Linked DNA regions of Homo sapiens. The protein of the gene in region 1 purifies or fractionates together with the protein of each later gene. This does not show direct contact. Each region holds a gene or a part of one and is shown in the gene's direction. Other genes may lie near its edges. The genes, in order: SLX9, DHX37, PARN, IFT81, NOP14 and MME.

Region 1 (3,500 bases):
TCTGACCCCCTTCAGAAACCTCTGTTGAGGTCGATGCTGCCTTCCCTGCCAAGGTCAGTGAGGCTTGCACATGAATGGGCTGGGCAGCACGGGGGTCAGGGACGGGGGGGTTCTGTCTCCTCACGGTTTGGTCGGCAGCTGACTTGGAGGAACTGAAATCTTCATGCAGGGATGAGTGTGGCTCAGAACCAGACCTGGCAGAGAGGCTGCTGAGATGACTAGTTCTGATGGGATGTGGTCAGTCTGAGCTGAAAGAGCTGTCAGGCTGGGAGCTGCCTATCCTTCATCTGCTCAGCTGCAGGTTTCTTCTGTGACACAGGAGAATGTTGTAGAAAGAGTAAGACGAAATGGTTGGGAAGGAAATTTGGTTCTTGAGATACTGGTCCTGACTCCTGAAGAACCAGGAGTGAAGCCCGTCTGGTGATTGAAGGCAGGGAGCAGGTGGGCCTGGGCGCTGCGGGTCTGCCCTGGAGCTCTGGAACCGGAGGCTTCTGCTCTGGGAGGTGAGGGTTGTTTCCCCCAGGTCCTCCCGGGCAGAGAAGCTGGGGAATCCAGGTTCTTGTCTTGCATCTTCTCCTCACCTTTAACGTCCCTCTGAAACCACAGAGCAAGTCTCACACCTCTTCTTTTCGTCCGTTTTTGTTGGGGACATTAGGACTGGGCGTTCATCAACACCAACATCTTTGCCAGGACCAAGATAGACCCCAGCGCCTTGGTGCAGAAGCTGGAGCTGGACGTGAGGAGTGTCACTTCCGTCAGGAGAGGTGAGGCAGGCTCGAGTGCACGGAGCGTCCCTTCCATCAGGAGAGGTGAGGCAGGCTCGACGGGTTACCATGCTGATACCCAGCAGGTCTGGGATTGTTCCCTCAGGCACCCGAGGTCTCAGCAGCTTTCCAGCTAACCTGTACCTGACAATGTCCTTGAGCAAGGGATGCCCCTGGCTGTTTCTTGGGGCGATTCCCCAGAGTAGATTACAGCTGTGGTTTTGCCCCTGGGCTGCATCATGTCTCCGCAGCTCTGCAAGAACTGCTCTGCGTCCTGGCAGCCACGCTGAAGCCACAGGAACTTGGGCTTTGGTGACCAACAGGGTTTGAACTGTTTTCTCCGTGTGTGCTGATTCTTTCGGTCTGTCTGTATGTTTGGGGCAGTTTTGATCCTTTTCTTAAACAAGTGCTTTATGTGTTGCAGAGGTTAGCTGCTTATCATTTTGTACAAATAACTCTTGAGGGTTTAGATCCTGAAGCCGAAGCAGGGTCCTCTCAGTTTCATCAGATCCATGCGCAGCCCTTCCCGTCTCCTGGTTGTGCTCCTTGCAGCCCTGCAGCACACACGTCAGCCTGGCCAGTGAGAGGGTCTGGGAACTCCCACTCACTCCAGTGTCCGGAGCTTAGCAGGGAACGCCGTCCCCCTGCACCTCCTACTGAGTCTGAGGTGTTTTAGAGAGTTCCCGGCCACCATGGTCAATGCTGGGAGTGTTGACTTTCTGGCTGGAGGATGGTGAGCAGTGTCACTTCCCAGGGATAAATCCAGGAAAAAGCTTCCTTCACTCATCTAAGGGAGTCGGTGAGGAGCACAAGGAATACTTTTTACATCTTGACAGCCTTGGGAAGTCATAGGTTGGGGAGGGAGAGGGCCTGGCTGTGGGGGCAGAGCTCAGGGCACCAGTGTGACAGTGAAGACTGCATGTGGCTTCACAGTCGGCAGAGCTGGGAGCGCCAGGACAGGGCAGGAGCCGGGTCTGGGGCCTGTAGATGGCCCGTTAAGATCGTGGGCTCTGGGCCTCTGCCCCTCACCGCCTGGTAGCCTCTGGCTGGACACTTGATCGCTCTGGGCCTGGGCTTTGCATCTGTCAAAGGAGGTAACAGTATTTATCTCCTAAGTTCTGGCAGTTTTGAGTTTGAGATGAGGTAGTTGGTGTGAAACGTTTAAAACAGTGCAGTGAAGGCTGTGGAGGCGCCCGCTCTGCATCTGTTGAACGAGGCTGGTCTGGTGGGAAGGCTGGGGACGAGTGGGTTTTGCAGCTGCCCAGAGGTGGGCCAGCCCTAATTCCTTGGGCACAAGTCATGTGATCACGGGTGCTCTGTGACCCTTAGCTCCATTGTCCACAAAGCGGCGACAGACATAGCTCATAGATGCTAAGGGCCTCACTGTGCCTCTAGAAAGATCCAGGTACATTTAACCAGTGCAGGTTTCCTGCTCCTTCTCTCCAAGGAGGACCTGGTGAGGTGACCAGGCCAGGTAACTCCAGAGAGAAGCTGTGCCTTCCAGCCAGGAACGCTTGATGTGGGTGGTCCGCCCGAGCTGTGTCCCTGGTTGCTGACAAGGCCCTTAAGGCTGTCCCCAAGGGGATGGGAGTCGTGGGTCTCAGTGACCTGGCTCTGGCCTGAGCTTCTCAGAGCTCTTTCACACAGCAGCCTCTTTCCTCTGCCTTTTCTTGGCCCTCTCCCTTCAAGCCCCTGTGGCTCATCTGGTCCCCAAGGTCACCTGCTGCACTGACTGTCACGTCCCCTCTTCCCCTCCTAATTTAGGGAGACGTCACGCTCACGACCCGTCTTGCCTACCAGGGAAACTCCTCTTTAGCAACATCTGGCCTCGCAGCGTTCTTGGGCTGAGGTCGTGCCCAGCAGCCCTGTGGCCTCTCCTTTGAGCCATGCTGGATCTTTGTTTTTGTTTGTTTGTTTTTTGTTTGTTTGTTTGTTTGGAGACAGAGTCTTGCTCTGTCGCCAGGGTGGAGTGCAGTGGCTTGATCTTGGCTCACTGCAACCTCCGCCTCCTGGGTTCAAGTGATTCCCCTGCCTCAGCCTCCTGAGTAGCGGGGACGGGACAACAGGCACATGCCACCACGCCCAGCTAACGCCACCACGCCCGGCTAATTTTTGTATTTTTAGTAGAGATGGGGTTTCACCCCGTTGGCCGGGATGGTCTCGATCTCTTGACCTCAGAGATCTGCCTGTCTTGGCCTCTCAAAGTGCTGGGATTACAGGTGTGAGCCACCACGCCCGGCCTGGTCTTTGTTTTTCGTAAGCTCAAACCTCATTAATTTAGAGTAACTGGTGGGAGAGGGTAGAAGCTTGAACTTTACAATGTCAAAGATTGATTTCAAATTTCAGAACCATGTTATCAGAGTAGAGCATAGAAGTGTTTTCTTGAAATAATTGAACAATAAGTTGAAAAAATTTGAAGATTCTATTGTTTGTGAGTCTGTTGGGTAATTAATTTTTTTCTTAATTCACATACCCTTATTTGTGCATAAAAATCTTAAAGCTTGTGCTGACGGGACTGTAGCGTGGCCCGTTCTGGCGCTCCCCAGCCCTGAGCTCGTGCTGACAGTAGCGTGGCCCGTTCTGGCGCTTCCTGCTTGTGTGCAGGTGTTTCCCATAGCCCGCCTTGAGGGGCACGAGGATGGGAATTATTTGAGCCGTGCGGCAGGGTCAGGGTTTTGGGTGTTGGGGAGGAGCCTTGGCCTGGGGAGGCACTTAGTGCTTCTGGCCAGGAGCCGG
Region 2 (3,500 bases), on another chromosome or scaffold:
CGGGTCCAGACACAGCCCCCTCTTGGGAGCTTCGAGTCCAGTTGCGTTTGGTGAGGGGCAGCACCAGACTCGGAGTGGGGTACCAGCCTCAGGCTGAGGGAAAGGGGAGGGGCCGCTGGGGCTTGCCCTTGAGCGTCTTCACGGTCCCTGGCCTCAGAAGCTGCGTCCCAAGGACTTTCCATTTGTAAATCGGAACCCCAGCTGCTGCCTCCCTAGTCAGCCCACTTGGGCCTTGGGGAAGCACCCCATGCTTCCTAGGGAGCCGGCCATTCGGTCAAGTGGGTGGCACGCGTGTCCAGAGAGCATGCAGGGCCCGGGTGGGGGACTGCTGTCTGGTGAAGAAGCTGTGCTCCGTGCTGGCTGTGACGTCCCCTTGGGCAGGGCCAATCTCCCAGGGGGATGGCAAAGGTGATTCCAGCCCTCCTGGCTTTGAAGCCACTGGGACTCCTGGGGGTGGCAGTGGATGCAGTTTGGGTCTGGGTGGCCCCTGTCTGTGTGGCACCTGCTGTCCAACTGCCCACGGCCCCACCCCACATCTCATGTCCATTTCCCACCTGCCCTCCCACTCTGCGGGCATCTGAGTTGAGCAGCTCACCTCTGATGAAGAGCAGCTGCCCTTCCTCTAACACTGTCTCCTCAAGTGGGAGTTCTGGGACGTGAAGCGGCCCTTGGGGCTTAGGCTGGAAGGGTGGGCCTCACCCCGGACCTCCCCCCAGGACTTCCTGCTGCTGCGGTACAAGGTGGTGATCATCGACGAGGCCCACGAGAGGAGCGTGTACACGGACATCCTCATCGGCCTCCTGTCCCGCATTGTGACTCTCCGGGCTAAGGTAGCGCAGGAGGCGGGTGCTGGGGAGCCCCGAGCCCTAGGCCCCCCCCAGCTCTGTCAGAGGCTTGGGCTTCCTTCACCTGTTCCCCGTTGTACCCTGGGCTGCTGCCATGAGCAGGTACCCCGAGCACAAGGTCTCCCTGGGCCTAGGTCTAGGCCTAGTGCCAGGGCTGTGAATCTTGGAACAGCCCCTGTGTGATCCCCTCCCCACCGCCCCGGTGCCAGCCTCATAAACTGGTGTCCTTCTCCCCATCCAAAGCAAGAGGCTCAGGAGAAGTGTTGATGCCTTGCCAGGCGCAATGGGGCTGGTTGATGAGGCCTCTGGGCCTCTGGGATCAGCAGAGCAGGTGGGCCTGCCCAGCCAAGGGCCAGGCTCCCGGAGCTCTGAGAGGGGCTCCCCAGGGCCTCTTTCTCCATCTCCCTGCCCCAGCCTGACACAGGGGCCTGCTGAGTTGGTGGGTGCCACCCTGGGGCGCGGCTTCATGCAGTAGGCCTGTCTCACCCTCCCGGCGGGGAGAGGGGCCTGCGCTCCACATGTGCCATGAGCCTGGCCACATTCAAGGCCCTGAAAATCAACAGTGAACAAGACGCTGTCTTGTTCTAACAGTTCCTGCCCTCCTGGGGCCTCCACTTCAGCAAGGGTGGCAGGCAGGACGCAGACTCAGAGTATGTGAGCCAGTGACAGACAAAGCCGGGGGCAGTGGAGGGAGGACACAGGGCTAGTGAGGGCTTCACCCGAAAAGTGACCTCTGAGCTCAAGTGGAAGGCTGAATGAGGGAGGGAGTGAGCGGCGTGCATTGCAGAGCGAGGAGAAGTCTGACTGGAGGAGAGCAATGCAAAGGTCCTGAGGCGGGCGTCTGCCTGGTGCCTTTTTTCTTTTGGTAACAAGCTTTATTGGGCTGTGATTCACATTTCATATCATTCATCTGTTCAAATGTACAATTCAGTGGTTTTTAGTCCGTTCACAGAGTGTGCAGCCATCACCACAGTTTTATATTTTGTCACTCATCAATCCAACAAGAAACCCTAGGCCGGGCACGGTGGCTCACGCCTGTAATCCCAGCACTGTGGGATGCTGAGGCGGGTGGATCACTTGAGGTCAGGAGTTCAAGACCAGCCTGGCCAACATGGTGAAACCCTGTCTCTACTAAAAAAACGAAAAATTAGCCAGGCCTGGTGGCGCACACCTGTAATCTCAACTACTCGGGAGGCTGAGGCAGGAGAATCACTTGAACCCAGCGGGTGGAGCTTGCAGTGAGCCGCGATCGCGCCACTGCACTCCAGCCTGGGTGAGAAAGCGAGACTTCATCTGAAAAACAAAAACAAAAAGAAACGCTGTGCCTTTTATGGTTTTTTGTGGTGGTGGTTTTTGTTTTTTTTTTTCGAGGCAGGGTCTCATTGTCACTGAGGCTGGAGTGCAGCGGTGCAATCACAGCTCACTGCAACCCCGACCTTCTGGGCTTAAGGAATCCTTTTGCCTCAGCCTCCCAAGAAGCTGGACCATGGTCACTCTGTGTGTAACCATTTGCAAATGATTTCCCCCAGCGGCTGCAGAATTCCATGGTACTTCCGCACCAGCAGTGTCAGAGCTTCCAGTTTCTCCACATCCTGCCAGCACTTGTCGTTTTCCATTTCTGTTATTCTAGACATCCCTGTGGGTGGACAGTGACACCTCACTGTGGCCTTGGTTTATGTCTTTGGGGGCCATCAGGAAGTCTAGAGTGGCCAAGCAGAGAGGGTGAGGTGGGGTCCGGAAGGCACGGGGGTGAGGCAGACAGGGACGGTCACTGTGGGGCAAGAGAGGGGCCTGTGCTGGGTGTCCTGCCTCCCACAGAGGTGCTTTGGCCACTCCTTAGCTTCTGGGTTTGGGGTTTCGTAGCAGCAAAGGCAGCAAGAGCTTGAAGCAGAGCTCACCATGAGGCCATTAGGCATTGCTGAGCGGCCTGGGGACCAGGGAGCTCCCGGGAGCTCTCTCCCACCCCCCACAGACCCCAGAGAATCAGGCAGCTCTTCCCTGAGCCCCCGGCACAGACACTCAGTCAATCTTGGTGTCAGGTGGGAGCTGGGTTGGGTGGGCCCCAGTCTCAGCCCACCTGCCTCATATTCTACCATCAAAGCCTGACTCTGAAAGACCCCCTGGAACAAGCCACCGCCCTGGGAGCGGCAGGTCCCACTATTGACTCACTTTCTCCAAGGAGCCTTTGGCATCCAGAAAGGGGCAGAGGGTGGGGGCTGGAAACGGGGTGGGCAGCAGGGCACCCCCATGCCGATTTCCCAGGCTTCAGACCCACCTGCGGTCCTGGGGCCACGGTCACTGAGCCTGTCCTTTTGCAGAGGAACCTGCCACTCAAGCTGCTCATCATGTCGGCCACGCTGCGGGTGGAGGACTTCACCCAGAACCCACGGCTCTTCGCCAAGCCGCCGCCGGTCATCAAGGTAACACAGGGTCCCATGTCCTCTGTGAGCTTGGATGGCACAAGGACGCCCTGGTGTCGGGAGCCCCCTGAGAGACCTCACTTGGTCACAGGGGGGATTGACAGCAGCTTGGAGGGGGTGTTAGAAACCTTGATTCGGAATAATGGGGAAAGGGAAGGCAGCCCTGGGCCGAAGCTCGTGTCCCCCCCACTCCCCATGCCTTCCTGGGCGTCCCACAGGTGGAATCCAGGCAGTT
Region 3 (3,500 bases), on another chromosome or scaffold:
TTTTATAGAGACAGGGTCTTGCTGTGTTAACCAGGCTGATCTAGAATTTCTGGGCTCAAGTGATCCTCCTACCTCAGCCTCCCAAAGTGCTGGAATTACAGGCTTGAGCCACCGCACCCAGCCTCCTGACCCTTCTTATAAGGGCACTAATTCCCTCGTGACTTAATTACCTCCCAAAGGTCTCACTTCCAAATACCATCGTACTGGGGAGGCTTCAACATATGAATTTTAGGGGGACACAAACATTGAACCTATAGCACTACCATTTCCTTGGGATCCACTCACCCAATTAAAAGTGGGAGGGTTTTGAGGTAGGAGTGGGAGGAGATGAGGGGAGGAGGAAATCTGCAAGAAAAACCACTGACACTTGCTGTGGTATGGTACTTGGTGCGTAAGAATACCTTTCACAGGCCGGGCGCAGTGGCTTACTCCTGTAATCCCAGCACTTTAGGAGGCTGAGGTGGGTGGATCACCTGAGGTTAGGAGTTTGAGACCAGCCTGACCAACATGGAAAAACCCTGTCTCCACTAAAAATACAAAATTAGCTGGGCATGGTGGCACATGTCTGTAATCCCTGGTCCTCGGGAGGCTGAGGCAGGACAATCACTTGAATCTGGGAGGTGGAAGTTTCAGTGAACCGAGATTGCGCCATTGCACTCCAGCCTGGGCAACAAGAGTGAAACTCTGACTCAAAAAAAAAAGAATACCTTTCACACTTGTTGAACCATGCTGTTAATTTAAATCTGTTTTGGTCTGAACTTTCAGGCTTGGTCTATGTGACTATGAATAATAATACCTCTCTTCTTTTCTTCATTAGGTTCTTTTCTCAGCCCTCCAAAAATTCATGTGTCTGCCAGATCAAAACTCATTGAACCTTTTTTTAACAAGTAAGTAATCAGAGAGTTCCAGTTTCCAAGTTCTCTCACTGTGGAACAGCCTCATATCTTGGGATGTCAGTTTGGAGTTATTGGGAGCTATAACACATTTTTAGATAAGCTGTTTTTCATCTCGAGTGACTCACATGTTTTTTGAAAGTAGAAAGTGACCTTTTGGGGAACAAATGTATTAAAAATATAGGCTTAAAAAAAAAAAAGAAAACATTGCTAGACGTAGTATAGTAGATCTCTTCCAAGAAAAAGAACTGGTAGTTCTGGCATTTAAATTTCCTATGAGGGGCCGGGTGTGGTGGCTCACACCTGTAATCCCAGCACTTTGGGAGGCTGAGGTGGGCAGAGTGCTTGAGGTCAGGAGTTCGAGGCCAGCCTGGCCAACATGATGAAACTCGTCTCTATTAAAAATACAAAAATTAGCCAGGCGTGGTGGCATGTGCCTGTAATCCCAGCTACTCGGGAGGCTGTAGTGGGAGAATTGCTTCAACCCAGGTGGCAGAGGTTGCAGTGAGCTGAGATTGCACCACTGCACTGCAGCCTGGGCAACACAGCAAAACTCTGTCTGAAAAAAAAAAACAAAAAAAACAAAAGAAAATTTCCTGGCCAGGCGCGGTGGCTCACGCCTGTAATCCCCCAACTTTGGGAGACTGAGGCAGGCGGATCATGAAGTCAGGAGATTGAGACCATCCTGGCTAACACGGTGAAACCCCATCTCTACTAAAAATACAAAAAATTAGCCGGCACGGTGGCGGGCGCCTGTAGAAAACATGATTTTCTTAGCTCTTTTATTTTTTGGGGCAGTGTTTGTCTTTGGAAATGTAGCCTTTGCTGTAGACCATGGAACCCACAGGTGATTGATGTTAAATATAGTTCTTTTTTTTTTTTTTTGAGATGGTGTCTCACTCTGTCACCCAGGCTGCAATGTGGAGTGCAGTGGCACAATCTCAGCTCACGGCAATGTCTGCCTCCTGGGTTCAAGCAGTCCTCCTGCTGCAGCCTATGGAGTAGCTGGAACTACAGGCATGTACCACCACACCTGGCTAATCTTTATATTTTTAGTAGAGATGGTGTTTCACCATGCTGAATAGGCTTCTCTCGAACTCCCTGACCTCAGGTTATCTGCCCACCTCAGCCTCCCAAAGTGCTGGGATTACAGGTGTGAACCACCGTGGCCAGCTAAATATAGGTCCAATTATGATTGTTCCCTTACATTTTTATGTACTTGATGTTAAATTCATTGTTCTGCAGTATTTTTCAACTGAGAGATGTTGACTCATTTGTATTATTATTATTATTTTTTTGAGTCACGGTCTTGCTCTTTTTTCCATGCTGGAGTGCAGTGGCATGATCTTGGCTCACTGCAGCCTCCACCTCCTGAGCTCAAGTGACCCTTCCACCTCAGTCTCTTGAGTAGTCATTTGTAAATATTTACACGCTGTAAATATTAAAACAGTAATCCTGCTTCTCCACTAAAGTCAGCTCCTTATAAAATCAGATGTTGGATGCAAACTGGGTTAGATGTGGGCTGCATCTAGTTTATCAGTCATGTATGTGACCAACATGCAGAGCAATCAAAATAAACTTTGATTAAAAAGCTTAGCTGGGCTGGGTATAGTGGCTTACGCCTGTAATCCCAGCACTTTGGGAGAACAAGGCGGGCAGATCACTCGAGGTCAGGAGTTCGAGACCAGCCTGGCCAGCATGGTGAAAACCGGTCTGTACTAAAAGTACAAAAATTAGCCTGTATTCCCAGCTACTCGGGAGGCTAAGGCAGGAGAATCGCTTGAAACCAGGAGGCGGAAGCTGCAGTGAGCCAAGATCACACCACTGCACTCCAGCCTGGGCAACAGAGTGAGACTCCCTCTCAAAAAAAAAAAGAAAAAAAAGCTAGCTGAGACTTTCTGTATTTCTAGATCAATCTAATATTGCTAATACTGTGCAGGACTATTATTGAAAAGAACTAGACAGTAAATGTGTAGGCTTATTTTGAATTGGGACATCTGTCCATTCAGAATTTTTTTGTAAAACCTAGATGCATACCAAGAGTAGTTGAATAGGAGGTGGGATTTGGGAATCCTTCTGTGATTATTTTTTTGGTCTATTTTTTTCCAATCTGTAAAGGAAGAATATTTTCTTCATCATTAAAGGAAAAATATTCCTGCAAGATTTGAAATACAAAATAAGAACTGTGTTTTTTTTCTTTCTTTTTTTTTTGAGATGTTGTTTCACTCTTGTTGCCCAGGCTGGAGTGCAATGGCGTGATCTCGGCTCACCGCAACCTCTGCCTCTCGGGTTCAAGTGATTCTCCTGTCTCAGCCTCCCAAGTAGCTGGGATTACAGGCAAGTGCCACCATGCCCGGCCATTTTTTTGTATTTTTAGTAGAGATGGGGTTTCTCCATGTTGGTCAGGCTGGTCTCGAACTCCTGACCTCAGGTGATCCACCCGCCTCGGCCTCCCAGAGTGCTGGAGTTACAGACGTTAGTCACCGCGCCTAGCCAAGAACTGTTTTTATTCCTCTTTTTTTTTTTTTTTTTTTTTGGTGAGACAGAGTCTCACTCTGTCACTTAGGCTGGAGTGCAGTGGCGTGATCTCAGCTCACTGCAACCTCC
Region 4 (3,500 bases), on another chromosome or scaffold:
CAGAAGTCTTAAAATTCTTGGTCTGCCTTAATGGCCTTTCTAAATACTTTTTAGTTTATAAGGATAAAATATTTGTTGTAAGATACATTATTTGTAACATAAACTTAAATAGATGTATTAATATGCCAGGTATTGCATCAAAAAATTTACTGGTTATATTTATATTTTTAAAATTCTGTGTTGTTTTCTATTCCTGTTTGCTGTTAACTTTGCTTTCATTATGCATAGCTGGGTGGGCAGTATTTAATGGGTGGTTTGACTCTGGTCCTCAGCTTAGTTAATCCTCTTATTTAGGCAAGTACCAACTACCAGCATTCTCATTTGTGTCTCAGATCAACTAGTATATTGACCGTATGTTAAAAGAGGAAAGGATGAGGTTGTTCCTTTGCACTCTGCCTCTGTGTCTCTGCTTGCTTTTCTGTCCCTCTTGGTGATTTTCTCACACTCGGTGTCGGTACAGATATTTCCAACACACTGCATTTCGTTCTATGTGCACTTTCACCTTCTCTACCAAAATGTCAACTGTAGTTGTCTCTAGCACATGGGATTATGAATGAATTCCTTTCTTTTCTTTTTCTTCTCTTCTTCTTCTTCTTCTTTTTTTTTTTTTTTTTTTTTTTTTTTTTGAGACAGTCTCACTCGTCACCTGGGCTGGAGTGTAATGGCATGGTCACAGCTCACTGCAGCCTTGAGTTCCCAGGCTCAAGTGATCTTCTTGCCTCGGCCTCCTGAGTAGCTGGGACCACAGGCATGTGCCACCATACACAACTAATTAAAAAAAAATTTTTTTTTTGTAGAGACAGGGGCGTCTCACTTTGTTGCCCAGGCTGGATTCTCTCTCTCTTTTTTCCTACCGTGTCACTTATTGTCTCTGACTTTGTGTCTACTCTTGCTTTCAGTCACCCTTCCTCAATTTGCCATAATATAGAACTAAAGTATATTTTTGTAATTTATTGAAGATTCTTTTATTCCTGTTTAAAATTTTAGAGTCAATGAGTAAAACAGTTTTGGCAGGTGGACCATCTAAGATGTTAGTAACAAAAACAATTCTAAGAAGGATTTTGGCTTATTTAATAGTGTACTATTTTCGTAATCACTGGGCCTGCTCTCTGAAGTATATGTGCATACAATTTGATTTATTTGGACATAAATAGAGTATACACTGTTTCAGGATAAGATAGAATATAACATTTAATAACAAGGATATATATAATACATGATAATTTATCAAGTATTTCAATATCTATTATGTCACTTGAAAACATAATCTTACCAAGTAAATACTTTTATTTTCCCCTATTATTAGCCTTGGTTTGGTTGTTTTGTTTTGTTTTGTTTTGTTTTGTTTTTAAGAGACAGGATCTCGCTCTGTTGCCCAGGCTGGAGTGCAGTGGTGAGAGCATAGCTCACTGCAGCCTCAAATTCCTGGCTCAAGTGACCCTTCCACCTCAGCCTCCCAACTAGCTAGGACTACAGGCATGTGCCACCACCATGCCCAGATAATTTTTTAATTTTTATTTTTGTAGAGACAGAGTATCATGTTACCCAGGCAGGCCTTGAACTCCCCAGCTCAAGCAATCCTCCTGCCTTGGCCTCCCAAAGTGCTGGAATTACAGGTGTGAGTCACCGTGCCCAGCCCCCAGCCTCCTATTATTCACCTTAATTTTTTTTTTTTTCCAGAGACGGAATCTCACTCTGTTGCCCAGGCTGGAGTGCAGTGGCACAATCTTGGCTCACTCTGCCTTCCAGGTTCAAGCAATTCTCCTGCCTCAGCCTTCTGAGTAGCTGGAATTACAGGCACATGCCACCATGTCCGGCTAATTTTTGTATTTCATATTTTTGTATTTTTAGTACAGATGGGATTTCACCATGTTGGCCAGGCTGGTCTCGAACTCCTGACTTCAGGTGATCTGCCCACCTATATAGCATGAGTCCTGTTTTCCACTTGAAACTCCAAGCATACCTGACATATAACAGGTGCTTCATAATTATATCTTGAATAAATAAGTATTAGGTTTTAGTATATAGAATATACTGATCCTGTTGGTTTCTTGAGAAATTTTTATGTAAATGGAAATTCTAAAACAAAATGTGGACATTTCTCAGGCTTAGGCTAATAAATGAATTATTTTAAAGCTATATGAGCTATAACTGTACATTCTTGAGTAATATGTCATGTATATCCTCCTAGCTGGTTTTTGTTGGAGAACTAGAAAGGCAAGCAGTTTGACTTAGAGTCTCATAGTGGCACGACTGCAGCTCATTGCAACCTCCACCTCCCAGATTGAAGCCATTCTCCTGTCTCAGCCTCCTGAGTAGCAGGGACTACAGGCACACGCCACCATGCCCTGCTAATTTTTGTATTTTTAGTAGAGATAGGGTTTCACCTTGTTGATCAGGCTGGTCTCGAACTCCTAACCTCAAGTGATCTATCCGCCTCAGCCTCCCAAAGTGCTGGGATTACAGTCGTGAGCCACCATGCCTGGTCTATTAACCTTAATTGATAATTGAGAAAACTGAAGTCCCAAGAAATTAAGTGCCTTGCTTACCACTAGAGGAGACAAAACCAGATTAAAACCGAAGTCTTCTGACTTCCAAACTCTACATTCTTCTTTTCACACCATGATACTGTTCCACTTTCCTAACTATCTTTTTCTCTCACTTCCTTTTATAGTTTTGTGTAGTTTTTTTTGTTTGTTTGTTTTTGTTTTTTGTATTTTCTTTGAGACAGAGTCTTGCTCTGTTGCCAAGCTGGAGTGTAGTGGCGTGATCTCGGCTCACTGCAAACTCCGCCTCCCAGGTTCAAGCGATTCTCCTGCCTCAGCCTCCCGAGTAGCTGGGACTACAGGCGCGTGCCCCCATGCCTGGCTAATTTTTTTTTGTATTTTTTTGGAGAACTAGAAAGGCAAACAGTTTGACTTAGTGTTGGATTTAGTAGAGCTCTTGATCTCCTGACCTCATGATCTGCCCACCTCAGCCTCCCAAAGTGCTAGGTTTACAGACATGAGCCACCTCGTCTGGCCTTAGTTAACTTTTATAATCTTAGTTTTGGTACATTATAGAGTATGTGGTTTAGCTAACTATTTTTTATCTACTGTAGAAAACATACCATATTCCTCCGACTATAGCAATAGAAATAAACCCCTGTAACTGAGATTTAATTATTCTTGTTTTTTTTTAATGATAGAAACTTCGGGAAAAACAAAAAGTTATACGAGAAAGTCATGGTCCAAATATGAAACAAGCAAAAATGTGGCGTGATTTGGAACAATTAATGGAATGTAAGAAACAGTGCTTTCTGAAACAACAAAGCCAAACTTCCATTGGTCAGGTAATTCAGGAGGGTGGGGAGGACCGGCTAATACTGTGAATTCTTGTGTCATCGTTTGGGGTTTTACTTGATACCACTAGCTATAAGCCTAATCTCATAATGTATTTCTTTTTTGAAACTGATTTGTATAGCATTTTGTTTTCAGAAGAGCCATTCTTTATTAAGTTTT
Region 5 (3,500 bases), on another chromosome or scaffold:
CCCGTGTAGCCACACCCTCGGCCTGGATTGCCCTTCTCCGTGGCGAGTGAATTGACTCCTGCGTCCTACAGGCCTTTGCTGACGTCTGCCCCTCAGGCCTCTCCCGCCCTCCACCGTCACCCCCGACTGACTCTCCTGTCTCCCTCCTGCCCCTCCACTTTCCTTTCTCGTGTTCTGTCTGGTCCATTTGCTCCTCTGGGTGCTGTGCACTGCCTGTCTCCCCGACAGGGGCAGGGACTTCAGTCTGTTCCCGGATGTGGCCTGAGCGCCTCATCAGCCCCATGTGTGCCTAGTAGGCCCCAGGAAGTCTGTGGCCAGCAGGCCTCTCAGGCAGGATCAGGCACTTGGCTCTCACCGCGCCCCCTGCCAAAGCTTTTCCCCTCCCCTGAGGTGTCCCTGCCCACGCTGAAACCCTCAGTGTCTGGCACAACCCAGAAACATAAAAATCGGTGTGCGTCTGTTAGAGGGTGAACTTCCACAGGCTCGGTGCCGCAGAGCCTGCTGGGAGCCCAGTAATGTTCAGGCCATCTCTGTCCTGTCGCACTTGGAATTCAGGTTCCACTCTGGTGCACCCTTTCAGAGCGCTTGGGAAGAACTCGGAACTGCTCGTGGTGTCTGCTAGAGAGGATGTGGCCACGTGGCAGCAGAGCAGCCTCTCCCTCCGCTGGGCGAGTAGACTGAGGGCCCCAACTTCGACAGAGGCCAATCACATCCGGTATGTGAGGGGACCCCGCTTTGGGGCCTGTGCCCTACAGCGTCCCCAGAGGCAGGAGAAGCCACTCGTGCTTTCTGATGTGCTGTTCTTAGTGAACTTGCCGCCCGGCCGTTTGGTTTGATGGAGGCCGAAAGCCTTTCTGAGGCATGTTGGCTTGCTGTCCCTTTTTCTTTTCATTTTCAAAATACATTTGCTTGATTTCACAAATCATAATTTGGAACCAAAAATGGAGCCGCCCCATCCCAGCTGGCGCTGCGGTTCCCACAGCCTCCCCTCCTGCGTTAGGCCTGACCCTGAGCCTGCCTTGCCCGTGGTTGCATGGGCCCAACCCTGGCCGGCCAAGGTGGCCACACTGGAGTTTTCAGCCTAGTGGAAGTGGGGAAGTTCATTTTTGCCACGTTATTGGTTTTGTCAGTGACAAACAGAACAAGTTGGACCTCCTCTTGCCTCCTGCCCTCACAGACTGTCCTGCCTGGCTGTGGGCCTGGCCCTGCTGAAGCGCTGCGTGCTCATGTACGGGTCCCTGCCATCCTTCCACGCCATCATGGGGCCTCTCCAAGCCCTCCTCACGGATCACCTGGCGGACTGCAGCCACCCGCAGGAGCTCCAGGTGAGGCTTCCCGGCCACTAGGGTGCTCTGCCTGGGCTCAGACATGTCCCTGAGCTGGGGCCAAGCTGGTGGCAGTCAGTCATTTGATGCTGCAGCTGTAAGTCAACACCATCTTTGCAAAATCACAAATATGAAGGGAAGTAAAATCATAAGAGTGGGCAGTGACGGTGAGCAGTGCTGGGCTGGAGTAAAGCAGATGCTGCATCTCAGGCGGCAGCTGGGAACTGTCGCCTTGTGTGCTTCCTCCAAGAGGCCGCACGGAGGGTGCACCAGCGCCCAGGGGTCAGCCCCTGCCAGGCCTGGACAGTCAGCTCTGAGCCGCGCTCTGCAGTCCCGATGGGTTTTCCAAGGATGGTCTCACTATCCTGCACAAGGTGACAGGAAGCCCCAAGGGACAGTCTCAGCTGGACCCAAGAACAAGTCTTTGATGGCACATCCTGTCCTCTACAGGCTGCTCCAAATTCACCTATGGCCTACCCGCCTCCCTGCCTTTCACCCTGACCCTGACAGGCTGTACCCTGCATCCACTTCCTGCTTGACATGGCTGTGGCTTGTGCCTTTCATCCTGCCCCAACCCTGCCCCTTATTGGCCCGCACCAGCCCAGGATGCTGCTGGAGCCGAAGGCATCAGTGCCATCTCCGCAGCTACCCCCACAGGACCGTCCCGCACCACCAGCACAGCCCTGGCAGCCTTGCCTCGTGCCTTCCCCTCATGCGCTCCGGCCTCCTCGCAGGCCTGGCTTCGTCTCTGGAGTAGTTCTCTGCACCTAGAACTCCCCACAGCCATGCTGCTCGCGCCCACACCCTTGGGAAGCCAGGCCTTCCCTGGCCCACACTGTGCCGTGCTCCCTGCGTTTTGTCTGTGGTGCTGACCCCCGGGCACGTTACACCGTCCTTGTCTCTGCCCCACTAGGATGAGAGTTCCATGAGGACAGCAACTCGGCTCGTTCCGGCCAGGTCCCTGGAGCATAGAGCAGATAAGCTAGCTATCACAGACTCCGTCGCCTGGTCAAAGGCTGATGAGGATGAGATGTGAGCCCTGCCCCTTATCCTGTATCCACTTCCTGCTGGTGTGGCTGTGGCTTGTGCCTTTTATTTAAAAGAATTTGGGTTGGCCTGGCCGAGGGGCACAGCAGGTCTCATGGTCTCGGTAGACTGGGCCAGTCAGGCCCTTGAGTTTGGTCTCCATGGAGACGAGGCATTCCGGCACTCGAAGGTTACATCCACATGGGCCCAGGAGTGGCTGTATCTGTGGGTGCAGCCAGGGTTCCAGGACACACCTGTGCAGGAGAAAGCGGGTAGGACCAACCTCAGTGAACTACCTTTCGGGAGATTCCTCAGAAGCCACCAGCCAACTCTTCTGGAAGCCAAGGTCTTGGTGAAAATGGGTCTTAACCATCTGGTTCTGTTGGCTTGAAAATAAGGTCAAACTGCCAAGACTGGTGGAAACCCTGCCCCGCCTAGCACCCAGCGTCAGTTTGCACACTGGGCTCTAGCATGCACACGGCCCCCCGCGGCAGAAAGGGGTTCTCCTGTGAGCCTTCTCACGAAGCAAGTGGCTCACGGCCTTTCGTGCCAAGTTTGTCTGGGAAAGAGGGGTTCTGTTGACGTTTCTGGCTGTGAGGAGCACAGGCTATGGTGACCTCCAACTCCCCAAGTCCCCTCCTTTCAGAGAGTGCTCTCAGGGGCCAGCCCACGGCCCTCCCTCTTCAAGAAGACAGTGGCTTTACTTCGTTCCGGCTGTGCCAGGACTTGAGCAGCCACAGCCTTGGCTTACCCCCCCGCCCACCGGTAGGCGCACAGCAAGGGCACCATCCTGCTGCAGGGAGCTCGCAGCACTGTCCTCACGCTGCCTTGACACCACAGAACCCGTGCGTGGAGCTCAGGGCACGCAGCAGGTGAGTCATCGCAGAGTCGGGGATTTCGTGTTTTTCAGGAGCTGTGTCAGAGCACACTGACCGAAATGGAAAGCCAGAAGCAGCTCTGCCGGCCGCTGACCTGTGAGAAGAGCAAGCCTGTCCCACTGAAGCTTTTCACACCCCGGCTGGTCAAAGTGTGGGTGCTGGCAGCATCTCCCTGGGAGGCCAGGGCTGTGGGCTCAGTGGGAGCTGACGGGGGGCGTCTGCCAGTTCTGCAGTTGAGCAGATGACTACGGAGTGAAGCCACACTCCCAAG
Region 6 (2,886 bases), on another chromosome or scaffold:
TACAGATGAAAATTTGAGACTATTTAAACTTATAAATCATATTGATGAAAAGATTTAAGCACAAACTTTAGGGTAAAAATTGCCATTGGACAGTTGTCTAGAGATATATATACTTGTGGTTTTCAAATTGGACTTTCAAAATTAAATCTGTCCCTGAGAGTGTCTCTGATAAAAGGGCAAATCTGCACCTATGTAGCTCTGCATCTCCTGTCTTTTCAGGTTTGTCATCAGATGGAAATATTTTGATAATAAATTGAAATTGTGAACTCATTGCTCCCTAAGACTGTGACAACTGTCTAACTTTAGAAGTGCATTTCTGAATAGAAATGGGAGGCCTCTGATGGACCTTCTAGAATTATAAGTCACAAAGAGTTCTGGAAAAGAACTGTTTACTGCTTGATAGGAATTCATCTTTTGAGGCTTCTGTTCCTCTCTTTTCCTGTTGTATTGACTATTTTCGTTCATTACTTGATTAAGATTTTACAAAAGAGGAGCACTTCCAAAATTCTTATTTTTCCTAACAAAAGATGAAAGCAGGGAATTTCTATCTAAATGATGAGTATTAGTTCCCTGTCTCTTGAAAAATGCCCATTTGCCTTTAAAAAAAAAAGTTACAGAAATACTATAACATATGTACATAAATTGCATAAAGCATAAGTATACAGTTCAATAAACTTAACTTTAACTGAACAATGGCCCTGTAGCCAGCACCTGTAAGAAACAGAGCAGTACCAGCGCTCTAAAAGCACCTCCTTGTCACTTTATTACTCCCAGAACAACAACTATCCTGACTTCTAATATCATTCACTAGCTTTGCCTGGTTTTGTCTTTTATGCAGATAGAATCAATCAGTATGTATTCTTTTGTGCCTGGCTTCTTTCTCTCAGCCTTACATTTGTGAGATTCCTCTGTATTGTGCTGATTGTGGATCTTTTCATTCTCATTGCAGAATAATGTTCTATTGTGGGACTTATTACAATTTGTTCATCCTATTGTTGATGGGCACTTGAGAACTTTCCATTTTGGCGCTATTACAAATAGTGCAACTATGAATGTACTGCATGTTACCATCTTACTTGAGCCTTTAATGGACTTATTTCTTCAAATCCTTCCAAAAATTATTATAAGCATTGAAATTATAGTTTCAAGCCAACTGTGGATACCCTTACCCTTTCCTCCTTTATCACAACCACCGTTACAAGTATACTTATATTTCCCTAAAATACATTTAAAACTTACCTAAGTGACATTTGTAGTTGGAGTAATAGGAGCTTCCAGCTCTAATAAAACAGCTGTCTCTAACTTATTTTATTTCCATCATGTCAGAGCAGGTGAAGAGCCAGAAGTGAAGAGTGACTAGTACAAATTATAAAAAGCCACTAGACTCTTCACTGTTAGCTTTTTAAAACATTAGGCTCCCATCCCTATGGAGGAACAACTCTCCAGTGCCTGGATCCCCTCTGTCTACAAATATAAGATTTTCTGGGCCTAAAGGATAGATCAAAGTCAAAAATAGCAATGCCTCCCTATCCCTCACACATCCAGACATCATGAATTTTACATGGTACTCTTGTTGAGTTCTGTAGAGCCTTCTGATGTCTCTAAAGCACTACCGATTCTTTGGAGTTGTCACATCAGATAAGACATATCTCTAATTCCATCCATAAATCCAGTTCTACTATGGCTGAGTTCTGGTCAAAGAAAGAAAGTTTAGAAGCTGAGACACAAAGGGTTGGGAGCTGATGAAACTCACAAATGATGGTAGGAAGAAGCTCTCGACAATACCCGTTGGCAAGGAGTCTGCCTCCATGCTGCAGTGTTCGAGTGGATTGTAGGTGCAAGATGGAAAGGATTGTAGGTGCAAGCTGTCCAGAGAAAAGAGTCCTTGTTCCAGCCCTATTCTGCCACTCCTGACAGGGTGACCTTGGGTATTTGCAATATTCCTTTGGGCCTCTGCTTCTCTCACCTAAAAAAAGAGAATTAGATTATATTGGTGGTTCTCAGCAAGAGAAGGAGTATGTGTCCAATGCTGCCTTCCCATGAATCTGTCTCCCAGTTATGAATCAGTGGGCAGGATAAACTGAAAACTCCCATTTACGTGTCTGAATCGAGTGAGACAAAATTTTAGTCCAAATAACAAGTACCAAAGTTTTATCAAGTTTGGGTCTGTGCTGCTGTTACTGTTAACCATTTAAGTGGGGCAAAACCTTGCTAATTTTCTCAAAAGCATTTATCATTCTTGTTGCCACAGCTGGAGCTCTCAAACTAAAAGACATTTGTTATTTTGGAAAGAAGAAAGACTCTATTCTCAAAGTTTCCTAATCAGAAATTTTTATCAGTTTCCAGTCTCAAAAATACAAAATAAAAACAAACGTTTTTAATACTATTGCTTTTATGCCTAGTCAACTCTGTTCCAAACTGCCAACTCCTGTGTAAATCTCTACCCCATTTATTTCTTGAAAAATATTAAGATTAAATGGAGCTTTTATCTCTGTAGTCTTGCATTTCCCACTAGCTTCAAATTGAATTTTTAGAAAATGAATGATATAAGCTTTGTATCCATTATGTCCTTGTTTTCCCCACCCTTTTTCAAAGATCACCATGACTTTCTGATTGGATTTTTTTTCAAAAGTGAAATGGCCATCAAATGTTATATGGAGTCACTAGCATAATCAGATGACTTAGGCAAAAGCCAAAAGTAAGTGTCTTTATCCACAGTCTCTAGTCTGAAGAAGTTGACCATTTGGTTGGTCAAGTGGACAGAGGAGTCACATCTGACTGGTGGTCAAACTGGCACATGTTTATCGCATTCTAATCTTTTATCTAACAATGGTTTCTTAATTTCTGCTTCTTTGTATTTTGCATTTCCTCTAAAACAGTGAGAAA

Evidence for each region.
Region 2: the proteins of SLX9 (region 1) and DHX37 purify together in Homo sapiens (affinity purification with mass spectrometry; one large-scale study listed by BioGRID and IntAct). This does not show direct contact.
Region 3: the proteins of SLX9 (region 1) and PARN purify together in Homo sapiens (affinity purification with mass spectrometry; one large-scale study listed by BioGRID and IntAct). This does not show direct contact.
Region 4: the proteins of SLX9 (region 1) and IFT81 purify together in Homo sapiens (co-immunoprecipitation; one large-scale study listed by IntAct). This does not show direct contact.
Region 5: the proteins of SLX9 (region 1) and NOP14 purify together in Homo sapiens (affinity purification with mass spectrometry; one large-scale study listed by BioGRID and IntAct). This does not show direct contact.
Region 6: the proteins of SLX9 (region 1) and MME purify together in Homo sapiens (co-immunoprecipitation; one study listed by IntAct). This does not show direct contact.

The regions. Positions count from the first base shown.
Region 1 is NC_000021.9:44,943,029-44,946,528, forward strand, and holds part of SLX9 (ribosome biogenesis protein SLX9 homolog), read left to right. Parts: intron 1-655; coding exon 656-809; intron 810-3,500. UniProt on the Homo sapiens protein: May be involved in ribosome biogenesis.
Region 2 is NC_000012.12:124,968,632-124,972,131, reverse strand, and holds part of DHX37 (probable ATP-dependent RNA helicase DHX37), read left to right. Parts: intron 1-716; coding exon 717-830; intron 831-3,163; coding exon 3,164-3,265; intron 3,266-3,483; coding exon 3,484-3,500. UniProt on the Homo sapiens protein: ATP-binding RNA helicase that plays a role in maturation of the small ribosomal subunit in ribosome biogenesis. Required for the release of the U3 snoRNP from pre-ribosomal particles.
Region 3 is NC_000016.10:14,578,261-14,581,760, reverse strand, and holds part of PARN (poly(A)-specific ribonuclease PARN), read left to right. Parts: intron 1-817; coding exon 818-887; intron 888-3,500. UniProt on the Homo sapiens protein: 3'-exoribonuclease that has a preference for poly(A) tails of mRNAs, thereby efficiently degrading poly(A) tails.
Region 4 is NC_000012.12:110,214,857-110,218,356, forward strand, and holds part of IFT81 (intraflagellar transport protein 81 homolog), read left to right. Parts: intron 1-3,187; coding exon 3,188-3,370; 3' UTR 3,371-3,500. UniProt on the Homo sapiens protein: Component of the intraflagellar transport (IFT) complex B: together with IFT74, forms a tubulin-binding module that specifically mediates transport of tubulin within the cilium. Binds tubulin via its CH (calponin-homology)-like region.
Region 5 is NC_000004.12:2,939,407-2,942,906, reverse strand, and holds part of NOP14 (nucleolar protein 14), read left to right. Parts: intron 1-555; coding exon 556-715; intron 716-1,177; coding exon 1,178-1,325; intron 1,326-3,261; coding exon 3,262-3,380; intron 3,381-3,500. UniProt on the Homo sapiens protein: Involved in nucleolar processing of pre-18S ribosomal RNA. Has a role in the nuclear export of 40S pre-ribosomal subunit to the cytoplasm.
Region 6 is NC_000003.12:155,181,319-155,184,204, forward strand, and holds the end of MME (neprilysin), read left to right. Parts: 3' UTR 1-2,386; downstream 2,387-2,886. UniProt on the Homo sapiens protein: Thermolysin-like specificity, but is almost confined on acting on polypeptides of up to 30 amino acids. Biologically important in the destruction of opioid peptides such as Met- and Leu-enkephalins by cleavage of a Gly-Phe bond.